2 separate regions of the Homo sapiens genome follow, and region 2 is linked to region 1. Evidence: fine-mapped expression QTL. Tissue or cell type: whole blood. Region 1 holds a variant in brackets; the other region holds the start of a gene. All regions are shown on one strand. Distances are between the middles of the regions.

Evidence for each region. PIP is the estimated chance that this variant, and not a neighbour inherited with it, causes the effect.
Region 2: PAPOLA starts here. The variant in region 1 is fine-mapped to the expression of PAPOLA in whole blood (TOPMed, PIP above 0.99). The same link has a PIP of 0.9 or more in aorta and breast.

Annotation. Positions count from the first base shown.
Region 1 is chr14:96,574,328-96,582,431 of GRCh38, reverse strand. No RefSeq gene overlaps it. Among named protein-coding and RNA genes, the nearest start is that of PAPOLA, 76 kb to the right of the region's middle. The variant C/G (reference allele first, on the strand shown) is at 3,598.
Region 2 is chr14:96,497,822-96,505,925 of GRCh38, reverse strand. It overlaps PAPOLA (poly(A) polymerase alpha), which reads right to left and starts at 3,544. Exons shown (of 22, transcript NM_032632.5): 1 at 3,326-3,544. The coding sequence starts at 3,333. PAPOLA-DT (PAPOLA divergent transcript) reads left to right here and starts at 3,600. Exons shown (of 1, transcript NR_122121.1): 1 at 3,600-4,278. RefSeq lists enhancers at 895-1,394, 1,395-1,896, 3,052-3,647, 3,471-3,730, 3,648-4,242 and 1 more and silencers at 3,231-3,350, 3,789-4,132.

The DNA of each region.
Region 1 (8,104 bases):
CCAAGAGGCCAGCCCAGGGCCTGGCCAAGTCACTTCAAATAGCTGTTTAGCCCAGATGGCCTGTTAATCTTGAAGGAAACCCAAAGAAGCACAGAGACACAGTTGAAATGGGAGTAAGAGCACCCAATGCCCATCCACGGCCAAAGGAAAGCTTATGCATATGCAACATGGGCCCACTCCGAAGGCTTTTCCATTAGCCGCGTGGAGACACTGTGGCCAGGTTGGGGGAATCTATATTTCACCTTACGTTGCACACAGCTGGGCTCAGACTGGCACCAGTGTTAATATGCAAACGAGGCAGTATCTGTATTCACCAGGGCTCTGAGAAGCCAGGATCCTTCTCTTCCAGAGCAGCAAACAGAGAAAGGTGGGTGGGGCATGCCAGAGGGGGCGTGGCTGGTAGGCAAGGACTAGGCAGGAAAGAGGCCATTGGAATGGGAGGAGAGACCAAATTATGTCAAATCAGTTTGGGGGAGTGGAGAACATTCTCAAAGAGAAGACTTAGAACCCAAAGGGTTTTGGAGCCAGAAGTTCCTCCTCGGTCTAATGGTCTCATTTTATTGATGAAAAAACTGAGGCCTAGAGAGGAGAAATAATTTGCTGAGAGACAAACACCTAATGGTAGTTTTTTGTTCATATGCGAATACAGCTGTGTTTAAATTTAATTTTTGTTTATATAGGTAAAGAAAGATCAAGGAGATCCTCAGAAGGTCAGTCCTATCAAGACCATGTGAGTACCGCGTGGACAAAAAGAGAAGCCACGGTCCTTGCCTTTGACATGTAATAAGAACTCAAAAGAATGGGGCACTGCGCATTCAAGAAGGTCATGAAGTGAACGTGCTACCTGCCAGGTGTGGGCTAGGGAACTGGGTGCAGTTGGTATTATCTCAGAGGTCCCCGGGGCGGGTGGAAGAGCTCAGAGCCACATCCCACCCTGCGCTTTCCTTTCGGCTCTGCTCTGAGCCCCACTCCTGGCTCCTCTCTCCAAACCCCCTTCCTTCGGGTTTTCTGGGAGAAATGTGCAAAACCTCACCAGTCTGTAGCGATGGATACAGTTTCTCTAGCTGGACACAGCTCCAGTGGTTCTAAGTGTGCATCTCTTAAAACGTCCACTGAGGCCAAAAAGCTCTCCCGTGCCCATCCCCCCACAGCAATTAGCAAATCGTCGGCACAGCAGTTATCTATACTAGACACATGCAGCCTACAAGCTAGACACCTCTTAAGGGAACTAGTTTCCTCATCTGTGAAATACAGTTTACAAGGCCTGTTTTCTGTGAGGAGTAAAAACGATCAGGTATGTGATGACATTTAGTGTCATACCTGCTATACTTGAAGCTAGCTGAAGTTACAGGCCTCTAGGATAATCTGCTGTGAGTTGTGAAAACCGGCACATAAGTCGAGTGTTAACCACAAATGACACAGGAGACAGCCACGAAGACCTTTGCTGTGCACCTAGAGGACAGGGCGTGACCTTGGTGCATGGGCTGTGTGACATTTCTTCCCAGAGCCTAGAAGCCTTTTCTACTTACTGCTCGGTTCAGAGATTCAGGGCTGGGTTCCAGAGGGATGCAGGAACTGCAAGCCAGGCTTCCAGATAAACAAGCTTTCGCGTGTAGCACGGAGTGTCTGTCCTCCTTCCTGAGTCTTCCCTTCACCCTTTTTAATGCCAACTCCATTTGTGATGATCACAGGAATTACTCTAAAGTCAGCCTGTGCTCCTCGGAAGGACAAACTGTTAAAGCTGAATGTAAATTTGGCATTGCTCTCCCTTGAATGCTCTTGGCATCCGTTTAAAGAAACGAGAGTTAGGGCAGTGATCGCATATTCATTTTTATAAAAACGACTTACAGACCAAGATTGGTTTCTTGAAATCCCACAAGTTACAGCTTAATTTCCTTCACCAGCACTGGTCCAGTCCTATGCTACACTGGCTTTGGCCACACTCACAAACTTGTTAAGCCTCAGTCACTTTATTCTGCAAAACCTGCCATAGCCAGAGAGGTGGTAGACTGGAAGACTCAGGGTAACCAGCCATGAGTCTTAATCCAGGAAAAGGGCTTTGACAGTGGCCCCTGAGATCTGAGAGGACTGTCCAGTTACTAGTGCATCCCAATTAGCTGGGCTCCCTATCATGGTTTATTCAGCAAATGACAGTCAGGACTGTCATGTCAGGCCAGGTGTGGTGTCTCACACCTATAACCCCAACACTGGGAGGCCAAGGCAGAAGGATCACTTGGTCCCAGAAGTTTGAGACCAGCTTGGGAAACAAAGAGAGACCCTGTCTCTACAAAAGAAAAAATTTAAAATTAGCTGGGCCTGTGGTGCCGTGCACCGTGGTTCCAGCTACTCTGGAGGCTGAGGTAGGAGGATCACTTGAGCCCGGGAGGTCAAGGCTGCAGTGAGCTGTGATTGCACCACTACACTCCAGCCTGGGTGCCAGAGCAAGACCTTGTCTCAAAAATAAAACAGAATTCTCATGTCAGAGCCCCTTTCCAGTAAAGTGGGAGAGAGCACAGGCAGACACAGCTCCTGCCTCGAGGGGCCCCCTTAGCGTTCAAGCTATGATACCCGAGAGTCCTCTCTTTGGGGTCTGTCTGCCTAAGAACATAGGGTTTGAATCTTGGCTCCACTGCTTCCCAGCTGGTGGCCTTGGACAAGTCACTGACTTTCTCTGAATTCTTAGGTTCCAGGTAACAAAAGCAGTCCTGCAGGGCTGTTTTGGGTACTAGATGAGAGGTGTGCATAGTACCAAACAGTGCGTAGCACACAGTCAGGTGCCCCTCTTCTCTGTCCCATCACCCTTAAACATTCCCATCATTGCAATTGGCACCATGGGTCGTTGGACAAGTATTTCTCTGTGCCTCGGTTTCAACATCTGGAAAATGGGAACTGTAATACGTGCTTCAAAGGATTGTTGGGAGGATTCAGTGAGATAGTCCACGTAAGGCATTTAGCACAATCTTTAGACCATGAAGTCTTAATACACATGAGCTCATATTCCACTGGTACACTGGGAGCTCCTCGGGAAGAACTTGGTCAAGTCCTTCATTCACTGAATTTCCACAGACACTGACAAGCAGCTATTACACATCATGCACTGTGGCTACAGACATGCATCAAGACACGGCCTCAGCTTTGCAAGAGCTGCTCCCAACTCGGGCAATACCACAATATGGTAAGTGCTAAGAGATTTAGCTACAGAGTGCTTTGGGAGTGGAGATCTAACCCAGCCTAAGGGATCAGAAGACTTCTCAGAGATGATGATATCTAAGGTATATCCTGTGGGATGAGTGAAACCCAGCTGAGTACAACAGGAGGTGAGCAGTGAGATGCTGGGGCAAGAACTTCCACGCACACAGAAGAGCACGTCGTGGCAAGTGGAAGAGGGGACAGGCTTCGGCTAACTCATTGACACACCCAGAACTCATGCCAGGCACTTGGGGCTCAGGAGGTGCTGCTGAATGAATAAACAAGCTTGCCGTACACGGTTCACATCCTCCCTTCCTACCTGCTGCTCCAGGTTCCAGGGAAGAGATGCCCGCTCCCTCTGGCGCCTAACCCAGAGCATAGCCAGGAAGAAGAGGGCAGCATGTGGAG[C/G]AGTGCGTCACTGGACATGCCAGGCCAGGCTGCCATGGGAAAGCACTCCAACTCCAGGAAGACTGCCACACCCCCAGGTGCCCAGACTCCCAGATTCTCAGTGAAAGGGACAGGCTGGGGCCCCAAGTACTGCTGCAAGTGGACTCAAGTGGCTTAAGTTCAGAAACCAAGGTGCTAGGCAAGTTGTCCACGGGTGGGGAAGAAGCACCCTCACCTCCTGTGCGGTGCTTCTTGACGACGCAGGGGCCAGGTGTGTGAGCCTCACCTCGGGCCACATTCCCATTACATCTTCCTAGCAAAGTTTCCAAAGCTTTGTCCTCATTTCTCCTCTTCCCACCCAGGCCCACCCCGTCTTGAAATTCCTCTCCTGACTGAGATGTTTGTTGTTCACTGTTGTACCCTCCCCTTCATCCTTCTTGAAGGCTGTTAATAGAACCATCAGACAGACAGGCAGCGTCAGGAGAACAGGCACCTCCCCAGATGCCTGTTGGGTTGTTCTCTCCCGTCTTCCACTTGGGCTACAAGTTGCCAAACACCTAGGAATAGGGGCCGTTTGGTCAAACTATAGCATCTACCAATGGTCAGTGCAAATGTCTCTCTTTGCCTCCACATACTGGGGGCACTGAAAGGAATCCCGGCCTTGATTTCTCTCCAGTGGGTGGTAGACACTGGAGGGCAGTCAACAGCATGCCAGGAACAGAATGAGGAGCAGCGCCTGGGCTGGAAGTTGGCTGTGGGCTGCAAGGTGGTGGTGGGGACTAATGGGGCAAGGGGTGACTGCATTTATCAATGAAAGTATGAAAGGCTTAATTAAATAATGACTCATAAATATTCAGCTCAGCCAAGCTGAGCCCCCACAATGATGGATGTCAGGGACTAAAAGGCTTTCAAGGGGAGGACTCTGCAGAGATGTGGGCCCCCACGCGTGTCAGAACGTAAAGGGCACACTGCCCACAGCCTCTGCTAGCTTGTGACATATCGTTCCCTCGCACCCGCCTTGCAAGCCAAATGCATTTTAAGGCAAGCGGTCTAGTTCCCTAATGAAGAGACTTCTCTATCAGGACCTTGGAATTTGTAGTACAGTAATCCCCTTTATCCATGGTTCTGCTTTCCGTGGTTTCAGTTACCTGCAGCCAACCACAGTCTGAAAATATTCAATGGAAAATGCCAGAAATAAACAACTTATAAGTAGTAAATTGTGCAGCCCTCTGGGTAGTGTGAAATCTGGCACCGTCCACTCCATCCTATTTGGGATGTAAACATTTCTTTTATCCAGCATGAAGCTGGATCTGGAAGGAAGGGAGGTGCGAGAGCAAGTATGCAACGGTACAAGTCTCCAATATGGGAATATGGGACCAGGTACAAGCACAAGTGACGGAAGCCCAGGGTCTTTGTGTGTGTGTGCGCTCTTTGTTCTCCTTTACTTAGCTTCTACCACCACTAAGAACCTGGACCACATCTTAATCATGTTGAGCTGCTCTGAGCCTCAAGATCTTTCTCAATAGGGCAGTAACATCTAACCTACTGCTCCCCACCCGCCCCACCCAGTCACACACTAGCTTTGCTGGCTGCTTTGTTCTCTGACCTTGACATGCTCTCCTGCCCCGTGCCCTGGTGCAAGCCCTTCACTCCACTTAGCATGCTGTCTCCTCTGCTCTGTTTCCTGATCACAGCCAAACTACCCATCAAATGGCACCTGCTCTCCCACATCCTCCCCAAGGCCACCAGGAAGCTGCATGCTCCCTCAGCACTTCTGGACCTCTTATTCTATCACTGTGATACATCTGGGCACCTACATCTCTCTCAACCCAACTAAGCTCTAAAACTCCAGCACCTTCCTGTTCCTCTGCAGTTGCCAAGCTCCTTCCTGCTTAAGAAACATGCTGCTCCCTCACTCGGCACCACCTTAGTCTTCAGGTCAAAGCTTGTCCAGTTTGAAAGGGTGCTCCTAACCTTCCAGAAGCACTCTTATTTCCGTTCAGAGCCCACTAGTAACTTACAGTTCATTTGTGTTGTCGGCATCTGTATCTCCTATGAACTATAAGCTTTCATAAGGACAGGGGCTATTATCAGTTTTGTTCCCCATGTATAACTAGGGCCTCTTTTTAACTGTTAAATGTGCCCCAAAATGGAAACAGCTTGGGCTTTAGAACCAGACAAGTTCAACTTATTACCAGGTCTCACTGATCTGTAACTACCCCCAGGCAGCTGTCACGGCAGCTGAGTGTGACGCCCACCACTCAGAGTGCGCCAAAGTGCCTAAACCCTGTGGACTCAGTGAACCCCAGTTCCCTCTCCTTGCTTGCTTCTCACTGTAACAGCACCTGGTACATGGTAGGGGATCAACGAATATCTGTTGAATGAACATCCTCCTCACAGGAGGCAAAACCATGCCCATTGAACTACACGAGTTTGTTTTTTTTCTAACTTTCTGATAGGGGTATTCACTTAAAGCTAAAGCCGGCCATTGTTGTGAGCCTCCCTGATTCAACCCTCACCTGGCAAACCAGGGAGTCTTTCTCCACTATACAGCCTGGTTCCCTCTCCATACCCCTCCTAGGTCCAGGCTCCCCCACATTTCTCCTCAGGCTTCAATCCAAAGCGTAGGTCCCCAGCTTGTGGAGACACACACATGATATGCTTGGGCTCTTTGCTTTACCTATTCAACAGCCGTGACAATCTCCAGGGAAAATGCCTGATATAAAATTACTTACCTAGTATGACCTTAAGTATGCTTTTTTTTTTTTTTTAAGGATTATGGGTGAAGTTTCTTCTTTATGCTTTTCTGTATTTTTTAAGTATTACAATGAATATGAATTTTGACTACAATGAATATGAATTATGACTATAATTAGAAAAAATCAACATTAACAAATTCAAGATAACATCAAATTTGCCTAAAACCAATTCACCTAATAATCAATTTGCCCAGTGACATATTCACCCACAATTCACATTTTAGACATTTACCACATTCACATTTTATATACAACATAATGAAGCCCTCCCCACAAAAAATTCATTTTTAGATGCCAATTTTTCTTTTTTTTAAAACATTAAGTATTGTTTTCATCCAGTTCCTCTAAAAGTGCCTCTGCCTTTTCTGTTTTTAATAAAACTTTGTCAAGTGTAATTAATGCCTTCAGATATGATAGGTAAAGCACCTCAACAACCTCTAAGGCATCTCTGCTGAGGTTTCATTCACTCTAGTCTTAAGCACTTTTAAGGATTTTTAGCTTTCCTTTTAGGAGGTCTTCTGTTTTAATTGGCTTAAAAAGAAAAACATTCTAAGATGCAAAACTTCTCAAGGAGAAACCATCCCAACCGATATGTAACATTACTTAAACATCCAAAGTTTAGTCAAAGCTATTAAGTGACTTGAGTGTGAACAGGTCAGTTCACCCCAAACTAGTCAGAATCCAAACCTTCCAGTACTAGTAAATAGAGTACACCAGTCTCATCAGAGCCCAGCTGTTCACTGTCGCTCTTTGCAAATCTCTCCCCCTCCTCACCTCCAGCAGGCCAGCTTTTTAAGGGCATCCAAAGAGCAGCAATGTATTTTAGCTGTTCTAAAACTAGAGGCATATGCAAAATAGAGCTAATTACCCTTGCCTTCTCAACGATAATATCCAAAGAGATACTAAGGCAACGTTGTTGAGTGGGAAAACACAGGGTCATATTTCAGGATTAAGTTTTAGAGTCAAACAGAACCAGGCTCAAATCCAATTTACTGTGTGACCCTGGGCAAGATACTCTGCCAAAATAAACCTGTTTCCTCATCTGTAAATGGTGACACCAATGAATATGTCAAATCTTATAGGTTGCTGTAACAACTGGCCCTACCACTTAACACCTAGTAGATATACTCAATAAAAGGCAGCTACTGTCAGGAATTTTTCCCAGACCCACTCACTGCACTTGAACCCTTGCCAGAAGCAGGCAGGCATGCTCACTGTCTCCTCAGAAGCTACGCACTGCATTTGTCTTGGCACTAAGGGAGAGAACGTTTTTTAATGAAAAGGTCAGTCTGCCCCAAACTCACACTAATTTTTTTTTTAAACAGGGCTTTGCCTGACTCCACTTTTTTCTCCCTACTCTGGTCCTGCCCAAATTTCATAGCAGGAAGACAGCTTTGAGAATTAGCAGGGGTGGTTTGCCAGATGTTCCTTTGCAGTCTGCCTTTGTGACTGCCCTCTGACTAATTCAAACTAGGTTTAACCTAGTACTGAAAAAAAAAAAGTCTGATTGCTTAAACATGCCCTATCTGCTTGCTAATCCACATAAAGCTTCAATAAGAAAGATCTAAAGAAAAACTTAACATTTTCCTCAGAAACTGGGGGAAGGCGTTAAGTAGCTTACCCAGGGTCATCAGGCCCTGGAGAAGGATCAGATTTGTCCTTCCTGAAGGCCAGGGCTTTTTCTTCCAACCACTGGACCAGGCTCCCTTCAGACATTAATCAAACATTGCACCACACTGGTGGTGGCTTCAGAAGCATAAGGCTTAAGA
Region 2 (8,104 bases), 77 kb after region 1:
CAAGAACGGAAGGAAGCAAGGAAGGAAGGAATCAAGCAAGGAAGGAAGGAAGGAAATGACTATATACAATACCGGTTCTCTGCCTTGATTGTTCCTATGATGGATACAGCATTTTCCACCACTGCTTTTGCACCGTTAAGTACAAATGTTGAAAGACAAAACATCTCAATAACATGAAAATAGTTTGAACATTATGTACCCTCTGAAAGATCTCAGTGGTCCCCCTCCCCAAGCATCCACAGATCCCGCTCTGGGAAGCACAGACCATCCACCAGCAGGTACCAGTTCTGCTTGTTATGGCGATGTAAAACTACTACAATTCCCTCTTTTTTGTGCAGCCCCCGAAAACATTTTTGCTATTGTCTCGCCTAAACCTTGCAGTAACTCTTTTTGGTAACTTTGACAACATTCTATGCATGTGGCATAAATGCTACTGATACTGGTTACTCTCCTTCACACCTTTTTATCATATGTGTGATACTCAGAACTGAGCTGATGCCAAAAATATCTGACCAACACAGAGTAGGGCAGAAATACATCTAGTTTCCATAAGGGCATCACACTTTTCGTTAATGCCGTGGTTCTCAACCAGATTTTGCACCCCAGGGCACATCTGGTAATATCTGGAGACATTTTTGATTGTCATTACTGGGGAAATGGAGGGGTGGAGCTCCCGGAATCCAGTAGGTGGAAGCTAAGGCTGCTGTTAAACTACAATACACAGGACAGGCACCTGCAAGGAATGAATCTGGCATAAATGTCAATAATGACTAGGTGAGAAACTGTTTAATGGATCCAAAGACTATCAAAACTTTCAGAAGCTTCACCACCATGACTCTTAAATCAGACTATAATCTTTCCAAAAGTATGTTTGTAGCTACATATGAAATTTAGACAAAATATGGACACTTGATCAAAATGTTCTGTAATATCCTAAATTTCGATAATTTTGATTTAAATTCATTCCGACAACTCACCTAGGGTCCATGCCCCAATGCCACTCACCCATCCAAATTTAACATTAGGACAGGTATACCAAAAATGAAAGCCAAACACAATATAGCCGGGAAATCACAATCCAACACATCAAAAAAACAACATTTATGACAGTGTGACAGCAGTACATGAAAAACAAAGCAACTTAATGAGGAAGAAGCCCTATTTTTCTTTAACTAGGCATTCTTTGGTCTCTCTATTGTTTACTACAGTAATTATCGTATACTTACTTTTTGAGTCTCGCTCTGTCACCCAGGCTGGAACGCAGTGGCATGATCAAGGCTCACTGCAGCCTCAGCCTCCTGGGCTCAAGCAGTCCTCCCACCTCAACCTCCCAAGTAGCTGGGATTACAGGCATGAGCCACCACGCCCAGCTAACTTGTGTTTTTTGTTGAGATGAAGTTTCGCCATGTTGCCCAGGCTGATCTCAAACTCCTGGCCTCAAGCGATTTACCTGCCTGGGCCTCCCAAAGTGCTGGGATTACAGGCGTGAACCACCGCGCCTGGCCCCGTCTTCCATTTTACACACTTGAACTAACTCGCGAAGAATTTGAAATACCTAAGGTCTTTCACAGAAATGTATACCTTCCCTCTTCAAAGAATGTTGGGGGAAAGTAGGTATAAAAGTACTTTTAATTCCTAGAAATAAGACACAAATTACTTAATGTTATTTCTTCATTGAAGCCTTTTAAGGTTTACATCTATCATTTTTAATGCTGGTATGATTATCAGAAAAAGAAGTCCCTTTTCAAAGACAGCAAAATGTTAACTTAATAACGCAGTCATCACGACATCACTGCAAACATTTATCTCCTATTGAACTGAGAAACACCACAACAATCTTGCTTAGACTCAGTTCTCCTAGGGTCTCTTATTCTATGAAAGGGAAAAATCAATAAACAGAAACCATGCAGATTCCAAGATTTTAGACCTGTATAGTTAGTTAAGTCTAACAAACGTTTTCATCACAGAAGTAATGTGATAGACTTCTTAATAACCTAAGGGGGTGGGTGGGAGCCATGGAAAATCCTTTTAAAATACATAAATTGCGATAGAAGTCATTAAGGTCTGTGCCAAAGTTAGAGTCTCACCTGTAAAGAAACACATTCACACACATATATAATTGTAAAACTACAATCGGTGATTATGTGCTAAAGAAATTATCCTTACTTACAAAAAAAAAATAGACCTGAGTTACTACATTCGATGTCTAGAAACCACAAAAATCTTTATCCTGAATTTAACCAAAACTTTGAGTGTCAATTACATGTTGCGTTTTGAGGCTACTAAGATGAAGAAAACTCGGTCCCTGGTCTCAAAGAGGCACTCTTACGCTTCAATATTCAAAAATGGAAGAAATGCAGTCTCACTATTTAGGCCTCTACAATGCTGTATATTTGCAGGAAAAAAAAAATCCGTAATCTACTGGCAATGAGCTGCCAAATTATATCTCATTATCAGAAAGGGGGAGGGGAGAAAAAAACTTTTTAAAAACCCACCAAGAAAAGAAAAAGGCGCAGTGGCATTAGAAAGCATAAAGAGACTAGCTTCAAGCCTTACAACCAGGAAAAAAAAAGTATCACCAGAGATAGAGAAAGAAGGAAACAGAATGAAACCTGGTTACCCCATCAAAACAAAACAGGGAAAGCAATACATAAGTCGTTTTGGAGGAGGGCACCCTGTGAAGTGCCCCCTTCTCCGACCGCCTGTGAATGCTAGGGAGGCGGAGGTGGAGGCAGGCGGACTCAACGCTCAAAGCTGGGCTTTTAACTCGTGCTCCTACATTCAGACAAGGTCAGTGGAAAGGGGCTAACTCCGGCGCACAAGACAGGCATCTGGAAATGGGAGGAAGAGAGTGAGCAAACTGAGACAGACCAGGAACAGAAAAGCAACATCGAATGGGCCCGAGGGGCGCCGAGAGCGAGCCCGAACCCCAAGTGCTGATCCCGCGTGCAGCAGGGTCGTGGTTCCCCACCACCAGGCAATGTTTTGTTTTCGGGTTGTTTTGATTTTCTTTGTGGACGGGGCGGAGAAGCTGGAGTGGCCGGGCGAGTTAGAGGTTCCGCCAGCAATTCCGGAAGGGGAAGGCCCCCGGCCCGACGGCAGCTGACCCAGCCAGGAAGGGTCGGGGGACGCGGGAACCCAGCACACGGGGGGAAGTGCGGCGGCGAGCGAGCGAGGAAACAGGAAGGTCCCCAGTCCTGCCTGCCTCCTACCAGCGGGGAGGGTCGGGCTCGCGTGCCACCCTCTCCGCCTACCTCTTCCCCTTCCCGGACGCCCCCCAAGGCCCAGCCGGCGAGCGAAAGAAAACAGAATACAAATTACTTACAACGGCATCGTCTCCGGCGCCGGCACCGCCCAGTCACTTCCCCCCCGCAACCGCCGCCGCTGCCGCCCTGGGCATGATCCACTGAGGCGGGAGGGAGGGGGGGGCCTGCCTCAGCCCTGGGTCCAACCCCTCTCCCGCACCGCTCCCGCCGCTTTAAGCGCTTCTCCTCCTTCCCCTTCGTCCTAACATGGCGCCCGAGCGCTACCACAGCAACGTTCTAGAACTGCTGACGCCACCACGCACGCCGTGCGTGCGCCTGCGCACCAGCGCCGTCCGCCGCGAAGCCTCACGGGAAGCGGAGTTCCTAAGGCCGCCTGCGGCCCGGCAATTACCCCCTGGGTCCTCTCACACTTAGCAGTGGGTGTCAGATGGTGGAAGGGAACGCTCAGGGAGGCCCCGGGCGGTGAGTTGTCCCTCGGGCGGGGACGCCCTCGTGGGCAGTGCGGCGTGGACGGCGCAAGGAAGAACCCGGAGAGATCCCAAGCCACGAGGCACCGCTTCCGGCGCATTGTGAGGTCCCACCTTTCCCGCCGCCTGAGGTCGCGGCGGCTGCTCTTTCCCGGAGCAGCGTCCCTGGAGGCGCTGCCAGGGGGTGAGGCACCCACGCGTGCACCGTATGTACCCCCCAGCGCGGCGCTTAGAACGACTCGCATGAGTCGCTGCCTTGGGTTGGAACCGGTTACTCCGCCGCTTCGTACTGGACTGCAAAGTAACAAGTACTTCGCCGGGCAGCGGTGCCGACCCCGTGTGCTACGGCGAGAGGTGCTTAGCCTAGAGCCGACGAAAACATGTCCCCAGGACTCCCTTTCCCTCCCAGACTGCGTCCCACCAGATGGAGCTTTCCGTCTGTTTTAACCACCAGTGTATTCCTGATGCCTGACCCAGGCGCTGAAATATTTGTTGAACGAATAAATGTGTAGGTTAGGACTGACGACAGTCCGCGAATTCTGGAACACGGGCTGATTTTACTTTTGAACAAATGATGCACTGGAACTTCCTGACAGAGCTGACCTTTTATAGGAACATCAATGGCAGTCACCGCTGGCATTTTAGCAAAGGTTGTCTTGGTCATAATTTCCCCTTGACTGTGTTTCCAGCCCTTAATCTATATCGGGTGGGACCTGGAAGTCTACCTTCTCGCCACCCCTCGGCAAAAGTTTGAGAAAGTGTTTGAGGCAGAGCCTCCTCTCTCATATGCCCTCCATCTGCGAATTAGAACGAATTATAAGTTCTACGGTGTCACATAGGGGGTTAGCGGAGAGGAAGAGGGAAAGAATCAAATACAGGACGCTGCCTTAACCAAAGTTCTAAACTCTAAATGTAATAATGTGCATTTGTGAGTCCTCAGGAAGTTTCACAAAGGCTTTCCCTTTTTTCACAGAATGTCTAGTAGGACTGGTGACTCCGAATGGGAAAAACACAGGACCTAGACCTGCCCTGTCCATTAGTGTAGCCCCTTGGCCACTTAGGGCCACTGAGCACTTGAAATGAGGCTAGTTCGTTTAGGAGGCACTGGAAGTGCAAAATACGCACGGGTGTCAGTTCGACGAATGTGAAATACCTCACTGATCACTTTTTATATTGATTGCACGTTGAAATATTTTGGATATATTGCAGTAAAGAAAATGTAAGCCGGGCACGGTGTCTCACACCTGTGATCCAGCACTTTAGGAGGCTGAGGTGGGAGGATCGCTTGGGCAGGAGTTAGAGACCAGCCTGGGCAATATAGGGAAACCCCCGTCTATACAAAAAGTTAAAAAAAAAAAAAAAAAAAGAAAAAAGAAAAAAAAATTAGCTGGGCATGGTAGTTCCTGCCTGTGGTCCCAGTTACTCCGGAGACTGAGGTAGGAGGATCCCTGGAGTGGGAGGTGGAGGCTGCCGTGAGTCGTCATCTCACTACTGCACTCCAGCCTGCGTTGACAGAACGAGATCCTGTCTCAAAAAAAAAAAAAAGAAAATATACTATTAAAATTAATTTTACCTGTTTTTTTAAATGTGACCACTAGAAAATTTTAAGTTATATATGTGGCCTTCATTTCCATTAAATAGTGCTGATCTGCAAACAGACTTATATTTGATTGTCATTTCTTCCATTTAGTCTCTTTTCCTCTTGTCATCAAGGTGGCTTTGGCTGGAGACCCAGTAGCATAGTTGTCCCTAAAAGACTGAAAATCTGAGATCCAGATAATTCAATAATGTATTAAGGCTATGGACTTCAAAGCAGCTTGTAAAGATATGCCCTGGGGCCTGGCACAGTGGCTCACTCACACCTGTAATCCCAGCACTTTGGGAGGCAGAGGATTCCTTGAGCTCGGGAGTTCTAGGCCACCCTGGGCAACGTGGCAAGTCGTTGTCTCTACTAAAAAAAAAAATCAAAAAAATTAGCTGGCCTTGGTGGCACACACCTGTAGTCCCAGCTACTTGGGAGGCTGAGGTTGGGAGGATCACCTGAGGCAAGGAAGTTGAGACTGCAGTGAGCCCTGATCATGCCATTGCACTCTAGCTTGGCAACAGAGCAAGACATTGTTCAAAAAAAAAAAAAAAAAATGCACTAACGATGTACTTTATGAATAAAAGAATGGGGACTTTTTCAGCTTATGTTGTCCTCTGCCAGGCATCTCAGAAGGCAGTGAAGAGAGGGACGCTAAACATCCATGCTTTTGGTCTATAATTGCTTCAAACTATTTTTGTTTCAGCCTTCCATAGAATGAGGCAGCTAGATAGCACAGCTGATGAATATTTAGTACCTAGAATGTGCTAGATATCACGCTACTTGCCTAAGGCATTTAAAAGGAACAATATTGAGGATTGAGGATGGAGTCAAGGTAGACTTCATGTAAGAGGTCACTTCAGACACGTCCTGATATGTTAGGGTTTGGTAAGTGGACAGAAGGAGTAGAAGGGCATCTCAGGTAAAGAGAACAATTTTTAAAAATAAAATGAGGCCGGGCGCAGTGGCTCACGCCTGTAATCCCAACACTTTGGGAGGCTGAGGTTGGAAGATCACTTGAGGTCAGGAGTTGGAGATCAGCCTGGCAAACATGTTGAAACCCCATCTCTACTAAAAATACAAAAATTAGTCGGGCATAGTGGTGGGCGCCTGTAATCCCAGCTACTCAAAAGCTGAGGCAGGAGAATCGCTTGAACCCAGGAGGCACATGTTGCAGTGGACCAAGATTGTGCCATTGCACTCCAGCCCGGGCAACAAGACCAAAACTCTGCCTCAGAAATAAATAAATAAATAAATAAAAATTAAAACGTGCAAATAATTTATTTGGAGAAAGGGAAACTTTTGAAGTGACTAAACCACAAAATATTTAGTGAGGAGTGGTGAAAATAAAGCTGCAAAGTTAAGTGAGAGGCAGAAGATAAGGGGCATAGTGGTGCACACCTGTGTCCTCTATTCTGAAGGCTGCGGTGGGAGAATCACCTGAGCCCAGGAAGTCAAGGCTGTAGTGAGCCAAGATCATGCCACTGCGCTCCAGCCTGGGTGACAGAATGAGACCATGTCTCAAAAATAAAGGAAGTAGGGGGAGATGGGAGATCATATAATGACTCCATAAACAGACAAAGGAATTATAGATGGTGATAAGCGGCATTAATAAACCAGGCATTAGAGTTGTGGTGGAGGCCAACTTCAGATAGAGAAGGCTTTTCAGAGGAACTGACCTTTGAGCTGAGACCTGAAGTTAATTCTGAGCGATTTTGAATTTTTGTTTTTGTGAATGGAGGAGCCATTGAAAGTTTTAAAACAGGAGTTAGGTTACATTTATATTTTTGGAAAGATGACTGAAAGTGTAAGGAATGAATTTGAACTAGGAGAGGTTTTGAAGCTGGAAGATGGGTGAGGCGGCTCTTGCAATCCTTCAGATGAGAAATGAAGTTTGAAATAAGGAAGAGAAAGCCGGGCGCGGTGGCTCAAGCCTGTAATCCCAGCACTTTGGGAGGCCGAGGCGGGTGGATCACGAGGTCAGGAGACTGAGACCATCCTGGCTAATCCGGTGAAACCTCGTCTCTACTAAAAATACAAAAAAATTAGTCGGGCGTGGTGGCGGGCGCCTATAATCCCAGCTACTCATGAGGCTGAGGTAGGAGAATGGCGTGAACCCGGGAGGCGGAGCTTGCAGTGAGCTGAGATCGCGCCACTGCACTCCAGCCTGGGCGACAGAGCCAGACTCCGTCTCAAAAAAAAAAAAAAAAAAAAAGAAGAAGAAATAAGGAAGAGAAGAAGGGAGCAATCTGAGAAAGATTTAGAAGGCATAGTTAATTCTGGATGGGAGAGGTGATGGAGAGGAAGAAGACCAAAATGATTTCGGAGGTTCTGAGTGGGGGCGGGTGACAGTGATTGGAGCTACTGATAAATGAAATAGGAAATAGAGGAGGATAACTGGGTGAGTGGATGAGATCGGGAGAGTAGTAGCTATGTGTTGATTTTGAACTGCCTGTGGGACATTCAGAAATGTCTATGAGGCAGTTGAAAATATGCTTCCGGAGCTAAGAAGAGAAATTTGGGCTGGAAACATTATAAACTCTGAAAACAAGAATCATGGCTTGGAATCATGTTTTGGCTCTGGAAGGACCTTATATACACCCAGCGACTACTCCAACTCAAATTTCATGAATGAGTAATAATCTAGATGCTCACAGATCATATTTAGGACCCAGTTAAGAGTAAAACTCTAGCCAAGGAAAGTGAAGAGTAAGAGAAGACCAATTAATAGTATATTGGTAACAGTCTACTGTTACCCTTGCCTTGCTTGTCCTGAGTCCTGCCCACAC